Regions from separate parts of the Homo sapiens genome. Here all the other regions are linked to region 1. Evidence: fine-mapped expression QTL. A gene starts in region 1. Each other region holds a variant in brackets. All regions are shown on one strand. Distances are between the middles of the regions.

Region 1 (4,242 bases):
TTATTTTAAAACAACATTCAGTAGCTCTACCCAACTGGCCACTTGCTGAATTTCTACCTCTTCAAACCACTGTAGATAGTTCCACCTATTGTCACGCTCAGTTAACTCATAACATAGTTGACAACATACTGCAGCATTTAAATGGCATTTCAGAAACAAGTCACCTCACCATCTTTTAAAGGCATATTTGATCCATTTGCAATTCAAGAAACATATTTGGGCCATGAAGCTGCCCATGGTTATGTCAAACTGAAGGAAACTATAATGGATCATTGTTGATTTCCCAACCATGGAAATCGGGCAGTGCAACCCACCTCACTGCAAACTGACTGTAAATAACTGCTACACATTTCTCTACACAGACTCATCCACACCCACTTATCCCATGACCAGCATCTCTCAGTCCCACACCCAAGGAATGCCTAATCACCTCTCAGGCCCTCGTCCTCCCTGTCACAGAGGAGAGAGCCACAAAACCTGCTTCCAGCTAACCAGAAATTGATCCCTGAACGGGAAACACAATCTACATAACATGGGTCAAGACCAAAAGAATCTTTGGTTGAATGTACATATGTGGGCACACAAAAACACAGGCAGGCACGCACACACTCCATTACCTCTACAACAAGATACAATGATTTTTTTTTTTTTTTTAAAGTTTTGCTAGGTCTGAAGGGGAAGCAAATCCCATTCTTCCATTTTTGCCTGCAATGTTGCCCAAAGGACCTATATCCTGATGACCATTTTGATATGCAAGACAAAACAGGTGGCTCCCAGTGAATGTGACAAGTTTAAGGCCTTGTTCTGAGACATTTTCCTGTCCAGGCCTATCTAACGCCCGACGTCTTTAAGGTTCCAAGAAAGCCTGAACGCACCGCCTGGCCATGCACCTAATAAACCCTTTCAGCCAAACAGTGCGGCCAGCACAGAGGCAGCAAACACCAGTCACGAGAATGATGATGATTTATCTTGCGCGGAGAGGTAGGAGGATATAGTTTACAACCTGGTGACTGAGACGACCTGGAGCCTCAGGAATTGGCTCCTCATCGCTGCCGACAATAACCCGGGGTGGGGATTTGGGGGAGTGCAGCAGGGGAACACTGCTGGATCCAGATTCCCGGCACCGGGCAACAAAGTTCCATAAGGTCGTCAACCCCGGCGATCGGCCTATATTATTCTTCCTGCTCCAAACACCTGTCTTGCTTAGTGGCTCTCTTCTTACACGTTTGGCCAAGGCCCCTTCTGTGCCTGGACCTCCCCAGAACTGCGGGACCCTCAAAGGCCCGGTTGTCGCCCACACCCTTCCCGTCCCCGGTGAGTCTCTCTCCCTCGCCAGAGCAGGCGTGGGGAGCCAGGTTGCGTACCCGGTTCTCCAGCTCCGCAGGGAACTTGGTCTGGAACTGGCAGCGTGTGCCACTGCTGTAGTCTCGCTGAATGAACACCTTTCCGGACACCGGCGCCTGCTGCGGCCTCATGGCGAGGACAGGACACCCCGCGCTGCGGGGTCGGGGGAACACCAACCGCGAGTCAGAGCCCCGGCCTGGACCCGGGACTCTGACCCGCCAGCCCCTCGCCCCCACCCGCCGCCGAAAACAGCCCAAGGCCTCCTCTGCCCCGCTCCCCTTCACCCATGCTGTCACCGCGGGCCTTAGCTGCCGCCTGGCCCAGGCCCCGCGCCCCCCACAACCCGGTTCGGCCCGGGAAACACAAACCCGCCTCCTCTGCCCTCCAGCTGCTGTCGCACCGCCTTCGCCGTCACTTACGTCCTGCCGCAAAAAGCCTCTTCCCCGCCCCTCAGCTCGGCCTCCTACCTCAGGTCTGGGACCCACCCTCTCCTCCGGCCGTAAAGCCACCCTGCCGAAGCTGCGCGCTGTGGGGCTGGGCCGAGGAAGGGAAATGATGTGGGCGGGGCCAGGGCCGACCCCGCCTTCCGCCCGCGCGGGGATTGTTTCCGGAAGGAGAGAGGCGGGGCGAGCTGTGGGGCTGCGGCCGGGGCGAGCTGTGGGGCTGCGGCCGGCGCGAGCGCGCGGGGGTGTGAGGGGCGGAGTTTCCCGGCTGTGTCACTTCCCTAGTGATTGTGGCAGGTGGTTCCCGATCACTGATTGTGAGGGGTCATTTTCGTTCTTGATTGGACGTCGCAGCTTACGTGTGGGTTATGCCACCCAACTCATACACAAAACAAAAAACAAAACATAAAGAAAAAACAACACCCCCTCCCCAAACCCTCAAACACAAACTGCTCATTGTGTTCAGAAGTAGAAAGCAGGCTCCAAGGATGGATCCATTTGGTCCCTAGACTCTTGAGAAAGGGTCAGGAAGTGAGGACGAAGAACCTGCCTGGGCCCCAGCGTTGGGCGCCCCTGCCCCGACTCTTCTTTGGGGGCGGCGTTCCTCTCACCCCCCATTTCCACCCAGCTCCCATCCACATCCCTCAGGTGACCAAGGGGACAAGTGGTTCCGCCCTCGTTGCCCACTGGCCCTTACTTGACTCAGCATTTCTTTGCAAGGCAGCCAAAGAAACCCCACCTTACCCTTGTCTCCTGCTAATACAACCTGTTAGTACCACTGTCTTTTATATATTTAATATAGTTTAAATATCCTGCCTTTTAAATATGAAAAATTCTCTTACTGTATTTTAAAAACAGCTTTTTCGAGATATAAATGGCATACAATAAACCACACATTTAAAGCAGTGGATTTGATAACTTTGGACATATGAATACACCCATAAACCACTGTCACAATCAAGATAGTAAAGCTCCATTGCCCTGAAAAGGTTCCTCCAGCTCCTGTGTAATCTCTCCCTCCTGCCTCTCCCAGACCCCATTTCCCAGGCACTGATCCACCTTCTGTCACTCAACATTAGTTTCATTTCCTTGAATTTTATATAAATTGAATCATATAGTGTGTACCCCCTTTTTTTGCCTGGCTTCTTTCACATAGACTATTTTGAAGTCCATCTGTTGTTGTGTTATCAATAATTCATTTATTTTTGATGCTGGATAGCTATTCCATTGTATGGCCATCCCACAGTTTGTTTATCCATTCATCTGTTGATGGACATTTGGATTGCTTCCAGTTTTGGGATGTTACAAATAAAGCTGCTATGGACATTCATTTGCAAGTCTTTGCATAGGTGTGTAGACCTTAATGCTTTCATTTCTCTTGGGTACATACCTAGGAGTAGAATGGCTAGATTGTACGGTAAAAACACGTTTAACTTTTTGGCAGACTGACAAACTGTTTTCCAAAGTGGTGACACCATTTTGCATTCCCACCAGAGTTCCAGTTGCTCCACATCTTTGCCAAGACTTGGGTAGTAATATCTTCTGCAGCTATAATTTTCATTTTTCCATGACTAATTATTTTGAACATATTTTCCTGTACTTATTTGCCATCCATGTATCTTCTCTGGTGAAGTGTCTATTTAAAACTTTTGCCCATTTTTTTGTTTGTATTTTATTTTCCTGTTGTTGAGGGGTTTTTTGTTTTATTTTGTTTTGATTTACATCTTTATTGGCTGGGCTTAAGGTCAGTTTTAAATTTTTAAGGCACTTTAATTCTTGGATTTTTGTATGTTTAAAGATGTTTTCCTGAGGCCTTTATACTTGCGTGAGAACTTGGCCGGGCTGTTTTTGAGTTTTGAGTTCTTTATACATTCTGGAGAAAAATCCTTTATCAGATATGTGATTTGCATGCATTTTTCACAGTCTGTGATTTGTCTTTTTACTCTCTTAACACGTTAGGGGTTTGAGGGGATTAGGGTGTGGACCTCTTGGGGAGGGCATTTCTGCCTCCCATAGGTATAGAGTGAAACTCTTCCCTCCCCCCGTATGATTATGCAGTTGTTATTCAGTTGTTTACGTACCATTTGTTGAAAAGACTCTCATTTCTTCACTGAATTGCCTTTGTATCTCTGTTGAAAATCAGTGGGGGCCGGGCGCGGTGGCTCACGCCTGTAATCCCAGCACTTTGAGAGGCCGAGGCGGGCGGATCACGAGGTCAGGAGATCGAGATCATTCTGGCTAACACGGTGAAACCCCGTGTCTACTAAAAATACAAAAAATGAGCCGGGCGCCGTGGCGGGCGCCTATAAGTCCCAGCTACTCGAGAGGCTGAGGCAGGAGAATGGGGTGAACTCGGGAGGCGGAGCTTGCAGTGAGCGGAGATAGTGCCACTGCACTCCGGCCTGGGCTAAAGAGCGAGACTCTGTCTCAAAAAAAAAAAAAAAAAAAAAAAGAA
Region 2 (4,242 bases), 37 kb after region 1:
CCAAAGAGGCCCCACAGCATAGCTAAGGGCTGTCCTAGGGGTCTCCTCCATTCCAGCCTCTGCCCTGGCCATAGCTCCATAGCTCATCACTTTGGGATGTAGCCTTGTGGTTCCATCTGTCTTTTTTTTTTTTTTTTTTTGAGACAAAGTCTCACTTTGTTGCCCAGGCTGGAGTGCAATGGTGCAATCTTGGCTCGCTGCAACCTCTGCCTCCCAGGTTCAAGCGATTCTCCCACCTCAGTCTCCTGAGTAGCTGGGATTACAGGCGCCCAAGACCACACCAAGACCACACCCAGCTAAATTTTTTTTTTGTATTTCTGTTAGATACGGGGTTTCACCATGTTGGTCAGGCTGGTCTTGAACTCCTGACCTTCAAGTGATCTGCTTACCTCGGCCTCCCAAAGTACTGGGATTATAGGCATGAGCCACCGCACCCGGCCATATCTTGAACTTTCTCTATCAATTAGGAAGTGGGCTTAGGTTTTTCATGCCTGTGACCCACTTTCAAATTCACTCTTATTGCCTTATTCTTTTGGCCATCTTTGGGTATCATGATGCTGTTGGAACAGAACTGCTTCCTGCGCCATCGTGCTGGTTGAATTACTCATGAGATAAAGCTCTTTTGTGGTGCATTCACTTCAGACCCTCATGCATGTAACTGCAGGTTATATCCATGCCATGTTACAGGACCCTCTCAGCTCCATGTTCTAGCCAACACATATTTTGTAATGGTATGTCGAAGAAATGCATTTTACATATTGATCACTAATTGCTTGCTATGGTTTGCAGGTGAGCCACACACCACTGTGTCAAAGTACACTGACTCAGAACTACAGTGCTACACAAGACACACAGATGGGCATGCACTTGCACACTTACATGCAAACACACTCTGTTGAGGGGACCAGTTCAGATTCAGATTTAGGTTTTCATCTGTTTTATATTAAACCTGTAATCCTTCCCATAAGCAAAGCTGGACTTTCCAGCAACTCTCGTTCTTTCTCTGGGCTTCAGGTTTCTTATCTAAAACAAGGAGACTGAATCTCTGGGGTTTTTCTACCTTCCATGGTTATGATTTAGGGTGGGAAAGTGATCTCTCTAATGAGGCTGAGCTCCTTAAGGTTAGAGTTGCTAAATCATTTGTAAAGGGTTTCCCCTTCTGTAACACTGAACAGGGTTATCCTCTGCCATTGGGCATGGGAGGGAGGGAGGATAGTGTTTTCAAGCTACCTCCTACTTTCCAGAATTAAAAGAAAAGTCCCTTTCTTGGTTGAGACTTGCTAATCTAGCTCTTTGTAGGAAATGCTAAGTTAGGTAGCCACTGATTTACTGAGTGCCAGTACTTTGACCCCGTGCACTAACATTATTTTGCACTACATGTGCCTCCTGGACTTTCTTTGATAACTTAAAAAAAATCAGCTTTTATTTTATACTCGGGGATACACATGCAGATTTGTTACATGGATATATGCATGATGCTGAGGTTTGCGGTACCACTGATCTCATCACTCAGGTAGTAAGCACGGTACCCAATAGGAAACTTTTTAGCCCTGGCCCCCACCCCCCGCCCCCCTAGTAGTCCCCAATGTGTGTTGTTGCCATTGGGTAATGTTTGGATAACTTTGGCTTGTTTTTCTAGATTGCATCAGAGAAATGGGAATCCCCCCAGCATATCCCCATCCCCATTCTTCATTCTCTTTGTCTCAAGATAGGCTGGGATGCTGGAAGAAAGCCCCCTTTTGCAGCAGAGCATCTGGGATCCATTTAGGGCCCATAGTGCACTGGCAGAAGAAAGTGACCTAGCATGCTGGCCACAACTGCATCTGTTCCCTGTGCAGGTATCAGAGGGATCACGGCCCCTCCGGTAATTGCTGGAGACAGGGTCAACAGGGCTGAAGCTTCCTTCTCCTTGGGCTCCCTCCCCGACCCCACCACATTCCCTCTTGGGAAAGGCAAGTTGCCAATCCTGTGACACCCCATCTGTCTGACTTACTGCAGCTCCTCCTCCCTCTCCACTCCCACTCTGCCACCCCCATCCCGAGGGC[A/T]TGGGCTCAATCAATCTCTCCCGGCACCAGGGAGAGACTGAAGTCAGACAGTGGAACTAATGGCTTAGCTCCCCAGGCACCTGGACAACATCCAGGGCTCTGGACACATTCCATGGCGGGGCCATCCATCTCCTTTAGGGGTGCCTTTGCTAACCCAAACATCTGAGCAAGAAGATCCATCTTACCCTACTCCAGGGATATGGGCTAGAGGGAGCATTACATCTGCTATGCTGGGTAAGAGCCAGCTCAGAGCCAATCACTGCGGGAAGACCTGGGCCAGGTAGGCAGGAATAGAGAGTAGAGAGGATGTGAAGGGTCTGATATTCATGGAAACCTGCTGGGGGTTACCTAAGACACACGGACGCCTCACTCCCATGTTACTAAACAAAACATTATAAGGCATATTAAAAGGCAGAAAACACATTTGAAGAGATGGAGCAAGCATCAGAACCGGATTCAGACATGGCAGGGATGTTGGAATTATCAGACTGGGAATTTAAAACAGCTATGATTCATATGCATAAAGGCTCTAATGGATAAAGTAGATAGCATTCAACAAAAGATGGGAAATGAAAGCAGAGAAATGGAAATTCTAAGAAAGAACCATAAGAAATGCTAGAAATCAGAAGCACTATAATCCCAGCATTTTGGGAGGCCGAGGCAGGAGGACTGCTTGAGGCTAGGTGTTCAAGATGAGCCTGAGCATATAGTGAGACCCTGTCTCTACAAAAAGTTAAAAAAAAAAAAAAAGCCAGATGTGGTGGTGTGTTTCTGTAGTCCTAGCTACTTGAGAGGCTGAGGTGGGAGGACTGCTTGAACCCAGGAGGTCGAGGCTGTAATGAGCTATGATTGTGACACTCCACTCCAGCCTTAGCAACAGAGCAAGACACTGTCTCTAAAATCAAAACAAAAAAACACTCTAAGAGAAATGAAGAATGCCTTTGGTGGGCACATTAGTAGACTGGACACGGCTAAGGAAAGAATCTCTGAGCTTGAGGATATCTTTATATAAACCTCTTCAATTGAAAAGCAAAGAGAAGGAAATAGAACAAAGTATTCAAGAACTGTGGGACAACTACAAGAAGCATAACATATGTATAATGGGATACCAAAAGTAGAAGAGAAGAAGATGTCAGGGGTTTGAGACCAGCCTGGCCAACATGGTGAAACCCCATTTCTACTAAAAATGCAAAAATTAGCCGGATGTGGTGGTGGGCGCCTGTAATCCCAGCTACTTGGGAGGCTGAGGCAGGAGAATCGTTTGAACCTGGGAGATGGAGGTTGCAGTGAGCCGATATCGCGCCACTGCACTCCAGCCTGGGTGACAAAGCAAGCCTCTCAAAAAAAAAAAAAATGTTAAAAGATGTTTTTTAGAGAGCAAGACAATGATACAGGTCGGAAACTGGAATCAATACATTGATATTTTGGTCAATGAGAGACCTCATGTAAGATGGTGGTCCTGTAAGATTTTAATGGAGCCAAAAAACTCCTATTGCTTGTGATGTGGTAGCTGTCATAGTGTTGTAGTGCAATGTATTACCTTTTCTATGTTTGGATATGTTTGTTTATTTATTTATTTTTTTGAGATGGAGTCTTGCTCTGTCGCCCAGGCAAGATCTTGGCCTAGTGGCATGATCTTGGCTCCACTGCAACCTCCTGGGTTCATGTGATTCTCCTGCATCAGCCTCCCGTGTAGCTGGAATTACAGGTGCCTGCCACCACACCCAGCTAATTTTTGTATTTTTAGTAAAGACGAGTTTTCACCATGTTGGCCAGGCTGATCTCAAACTCCTGACCTCAAGTGATCTGCCTGCATTGGCCTCCCAAAGTGCTGGGATTACAGGCGTGAGCCACCTCGCCCAACCTCTATGTTTAGATATGTTTAGATTCACAAATACCATTGTGTTCCAGTTGCCTACAGAATTCAGTAATGTAACATGCCGTACAGGTTTGTAGCCTAGGAGCAATATGCCATGCTCTGTAGCCTAGATGTGTAGTAGGACATTCCATCTAGATTTGTACAAGTACACTCGATGATATTCACACAATGACGAAATCATCAAACAGTGCATATCTCAGAATGCATCCCTATTGTTAAGCAATGCATAACTGTATTTGAAGCAATAATAACTGATAATTTCTCCATATTAATGTCAGATCCAGGAATTTCTGAAAACACCAGCAGGATAAATCCAAA
Region 3 (4,242 bases), 23 kb before region 1:
GGGAGGAAAAGATCACATCTATGTTTCTCAGCCCTTGCACATCCCAGAATCTGAGCTAGCTATGTTGTTTGACACTCGGCTGCTCCGTGAAGAGTAATTAACAAAACATTTTGAATACAAGTTATTATCATTTCCTGGCAATAAACAGGTCTGTTAAAACATGAGGTAAGAGGATATATACATGAACAGAAACAGAAAGATCAAGAACAACAGATATGGCAGCTAATAGGTGGATTTTTAGGTCTCCTGCTTTTTTTTTTTAAAGAACTCTTTGTAGGTGAAACGAAATATTTCTTCAAAGATAGTTTATAAATCTGAAGATTAAAGATTTCACTAGCAAAGTAAAATGTGACAGCACAAAGTTAGATAAGTTACTAAGTCAATAAATCCTTTTATTGCTCAGATACTATTTTTTTAAAAACCCACAACATCCTGCTAGCATAAACTTGTTTTCACTTGACAATAACCCTTAACCAAAGATCTTTGGTAGTGCCTAACTCATAAAAACTTTTTTTTTTTTTTTTTTTTTTTTTGCAAAATGGAGGCTTAAAAATGTAAAGAGTAGGCGTTAAGTTCCCATAGGGCTTCCTGGTTGTAGGCAGAATTTCACAGAACTTCGTATCTGCAGCATTTGAGGTACATATATGGGAAGAACTTAGGATATAATTCAGAAGAGCCAAGATCTTTATTTTGGTTCTGTAATTCTGTGCCTACTCATTTTGGAGCAAAATACATGTATTGCTGTACCCCTAACAATCCTAGCACGTAGGTGGTCCACAATCCCCATTTTGACATTCCCAACAATCCACAGCAAATGGGATGTTAATCAGATGTTTGCCGTTCTCTACACATTTCCAAGTTTTGAGTACAGTACTGGAGAGTACCATCATAAAGCCATTTATTCCAGCTCTTGGGGGTGGGGTAGAATAAAATCATTCACACTGACACCCTTGCACATTAAAGCTGGTCACTGTGTAATGGTTACAGTCATCGATGTTTATCCTTCCAGCAAGCACACATGAGGACAGGGATGACTCTGGCCTGTTTCAGTTAGTGTTTGCACTACAGAGTAGTCTCTGGTGATGTTAGACTACAAGCGTGCTTGATTCATTTTATCTAATGAGTGACAAGCACCTTTTTTCATATTGTTCTTGTAACTTTGATTTTACATAGAGAAATTCAGTAGCAAGAACTCAAATGAGTACAAAGTATTGTTTGTGCTTTATTAGGTCCTTAGAGAATTTTGAAAAGTGGAAATTATCTGAAAATAAGCTTTTATCAGAAGACTAAGTTAAAAGAATTAAGGAGAAATAGACTTCTAAGTTTTGCAGTTTCAATCATAGCTGGATTTAATGTTACATAGAGAATAATACAGGACAAAGTATGAGCAGGAGGCTTATTTATTATTTACTTTACCCAACTCAGAGGTTTCGATGCAATTCCTTTCCTTTCCCTGGGAATTCCTAATCTAGAATTAAAGGGCATTGGGATCCTCAAGGGTACTTATCTCCAGGCAAAAGTCCACTCTATTGGAGCTTAAGCCACAGATATCTCCTCCCAGTTTTAGAAGACTTTACCAAGGGAGCACACAAATCACTGCCTATCAAAAGCCAGACAAACGCCGCACCAATCCAGGTGTAGCACCGTAATTCTATTCTGATGTTAATGACCTGATGGGTCAACTTACCTCTCATTCATTTATGCACTTTACAAACATGTGAGAGCTAAGTATCTGTAGCACTGTGTATGAGGATGCATGGAGTGTGAGGTGGATGCAAGGGTAAGTAGGAAACCACCTCTGCCCTCATGGAATGTACAATCTCCTTTGTTTGGAGGGGGAAAGAAGCTGGTGAAGGGGAGAGGAGGTAAGTACATAAATCAGATATGGCACCAGTACTCTGATTTCCTTTGACATTAAAACAAATAACAAAAAACAAAGCATGTTACTCCTGGGAAACTGTAGCTTTAACTTATGCTAGGAGCCAGGGCTAAGTGGAATACAGAAGAAATTTAATTGAGGTGTTATGACCTCTTTTTTGTCTCCTGGCTATATAAGTATTATTTACTATGAGTTTCACTGGATAAGGAGAGACATTGAACATTTTATATAGGAAAATAAGCTTACAAAAGAAAGTTGGACTATGGACTGTAACTTCTAAGTTGTTAATTTTCTACAAATCTACCTTATTTAAAAGAAATGGAGTCTGGGTCGGGTGCGGTGGCTCACGCCTGTAATCCCAGCACTTTGTGAGGCTGAGGCTGTTGGATCACCTGAGTTCAGGAGTTCTAGACCAGCCTGGCCAATATGGCGAAACCCTGTCTCTACTAAAAATTGCACCACTGCACTCCAGCCTGGGTGACAAGAGCGAAACTCCATCTCAAAAACAAAAACAAAAAATGGAATCTGTATTTGGATTGTTTGTAACACAGTGCTTGAGGGGGATGAGTAGCCCATTTGACATACTGTAATTATTACGCATTGCATGCCTGTA[TCAAAACATCTCATGTAC/C]ACCGTGAATATAGACACCTATGTACCCAGAAAAAAAAATAATAAAACTACACTGAGTCATCAGGTGATCCAAGATAGTAACAATAACTGTGATGCCTTTTTCCTAATGAAACATGCCAATGTCTTATTTCTTTAAATATGTTTTTTAGGCTGGGTGTGGTGGCTCACACCTGTAATCCCAGCACTTTGGGAGGCTGAGGCAGGCAGATCACCTGAGGTCAGGAGTTTGAGACCAGCCTGGCCCACATGGTGAAACCCTGTCTCTACTAAAAATAAAAAAATTAGCTGGGCATGGTGGCGGGCGCCTGTAATCTCAGCTACTCGGGAGGCTGAGGAAGGAGAATCACTTGAATCCGGGAGGCGGAGTTTGCAGTGAGCCGAGATGGTGCCATTGCACTCCAGCCTGGGCAAAAAGCAAAACTCCATCTCAAAAAAAATATACATTTTTTAATTACCATGGACTATTCCTTGATGTTTTTTTGACCTCTGAACTTTTTATTGGCCTCTTACTCCCCACAGGGTACCCTGCTTCTGCTGGCTTAATGTCTCAGAACTTTGGTGTCACTGATCTCAGACACCACTTTGCTATCCACTATCTGGCGGGTGGTGGTCTTTTGGATGGTTTGCATGGAGTTGCTGCTGTCCAGGGCATCACCAAGATTGAGGCCCTCGCTGTCTTCCAGCAGGCGGCGGTAGGTGGCGATCTCAGCCTCCAGCTTGACCCTGATGTTCAGCAAGTCCTTGTACTCCTGGACCTTGCGCTGGCCCTCTGCCCAGTTCTGTGCCAGCTTTGACTCCAAGTACAGCAGGATTCTGTTGAGCTGCTCCATCTGCAGGGCGTAGCGGGCCTCCACCTCCCTCAGGCTGTTCTACAAGCTGGTCTTCAGATTTCTCATTGAGTCCAGGTCAATCTCCAAGCACTGGACTGTACGTCTCAGCTCCGTGTCATCTCAGCAGCTCTGACCTTGGCAGAGTGTGTGGTGACCACTGTGGTGCTCTCCTCAGTCTGCTGAGACCAGTACTTGCCTAGCTTCTCTGAGTTCTTCTGAGACAGCTCATCCTATTGGGCCCTGATGTCTGCCATGACCTTGGCGAGGACTTGAGATTTGGGGGCATCTACCTCCACGGCCAACCCAGAGTTGGCAATCTGGACTTGCAAGCCTTTTACTTCCTCTTCATGGTTCTTCTTCATGAGGAGCAGCTCCTCCTTGAGAGCGCCCATCTCTGTCTCCAGCTGCAGCAGAGTGACATTGGTGTCATCAATGACCTTGCAGAGCCCATGGATGTTGCTCTCCACAGACTGGCGCATGGCCAGCTCTTGTCTCATACTTGACTCTGAAGTCATCAGCAGCAAGACGGGCATTGTCGATCTGCAGAATGATGTGGACATTGTCCACAGTATTTGCGAAGATCTGAGCCCTCAGTTCCTTGATGGTCTTGAAGTAATGGCCCCAGTCTCTGACATGGGGTCTCTTCTCCAGATACTCCTGGATTTTGCTCTCCAGCCTCCAGTTCTCGGTCTCCAGGTTCCTCACTCTGTCCAGGTAGTCCAGGTGGTCGTTCAGGCTTTGCATGGTCTCCTTCTCATTCTGGATGCCCCCCATTTCTGCCAGACCCCCAGCCATCTCTGTGGCCAGGCCCCCAGACCCCAAGCCGCCCCAGAAACTGGTAGAACAGGACATGGAGATCTGGGATCCCAAGCCCCCCAGTGCCTGCATAGATGCTGGCTGCGC

Evidence for each region. PIP is the estimated chance that this variant, and not a neighbour inherited with it, causes the effect.
Region 2: its variant is the best candidate, but not a certain one, in a credible set for the expression of GOLGA7 in lung (TOPMed, PIP 0.78).
Region 3: its variant is the best candidate, but not a certain one, in a credible set for the expression of GOLGA7 in whole blood (INTERVAL, PIP 0.70).

What each region holds. Positions count from the first base shown.
Region 1 is chr8:41,488,088-41,492,329 of GRCh38, reverse strand. GOLGA7 (golgin A7) reads right to left here and starts at 1,748. Exons shown (of 5, transcript NM_001002296.2): 1 at 1,365-1,748. The coding sequence starts at 1,475. RefSeq lists enhancers at 1,118-1,227, 1,278-1,387, 1,678-1,807 and a silencer at 1,858-2,117.
Region 2 is chr8:41,450,758-41,454,999 of GRCh38, reverse strand. No RefSeq gene overlaps it. Among named protein-coding and RNA genes, the nearest start is that of SNORD65B, 26 kb to the right of the region's middle. The variant A/T (reference allele first, on the strand shown) is at 2,046.
Region 3 is chr8:41,511,332-41,515,573 of GRCh38, reverse strand. It overlaps the pseudogene KRT18P37. Among named protein-coding and RNA genes, the nearest start is that of GINS4, 16 kb to the left of the region's middle. The variant TCAAAACATCTCATGTAC/C (reference allele first, on the strand shown) is at 2,493.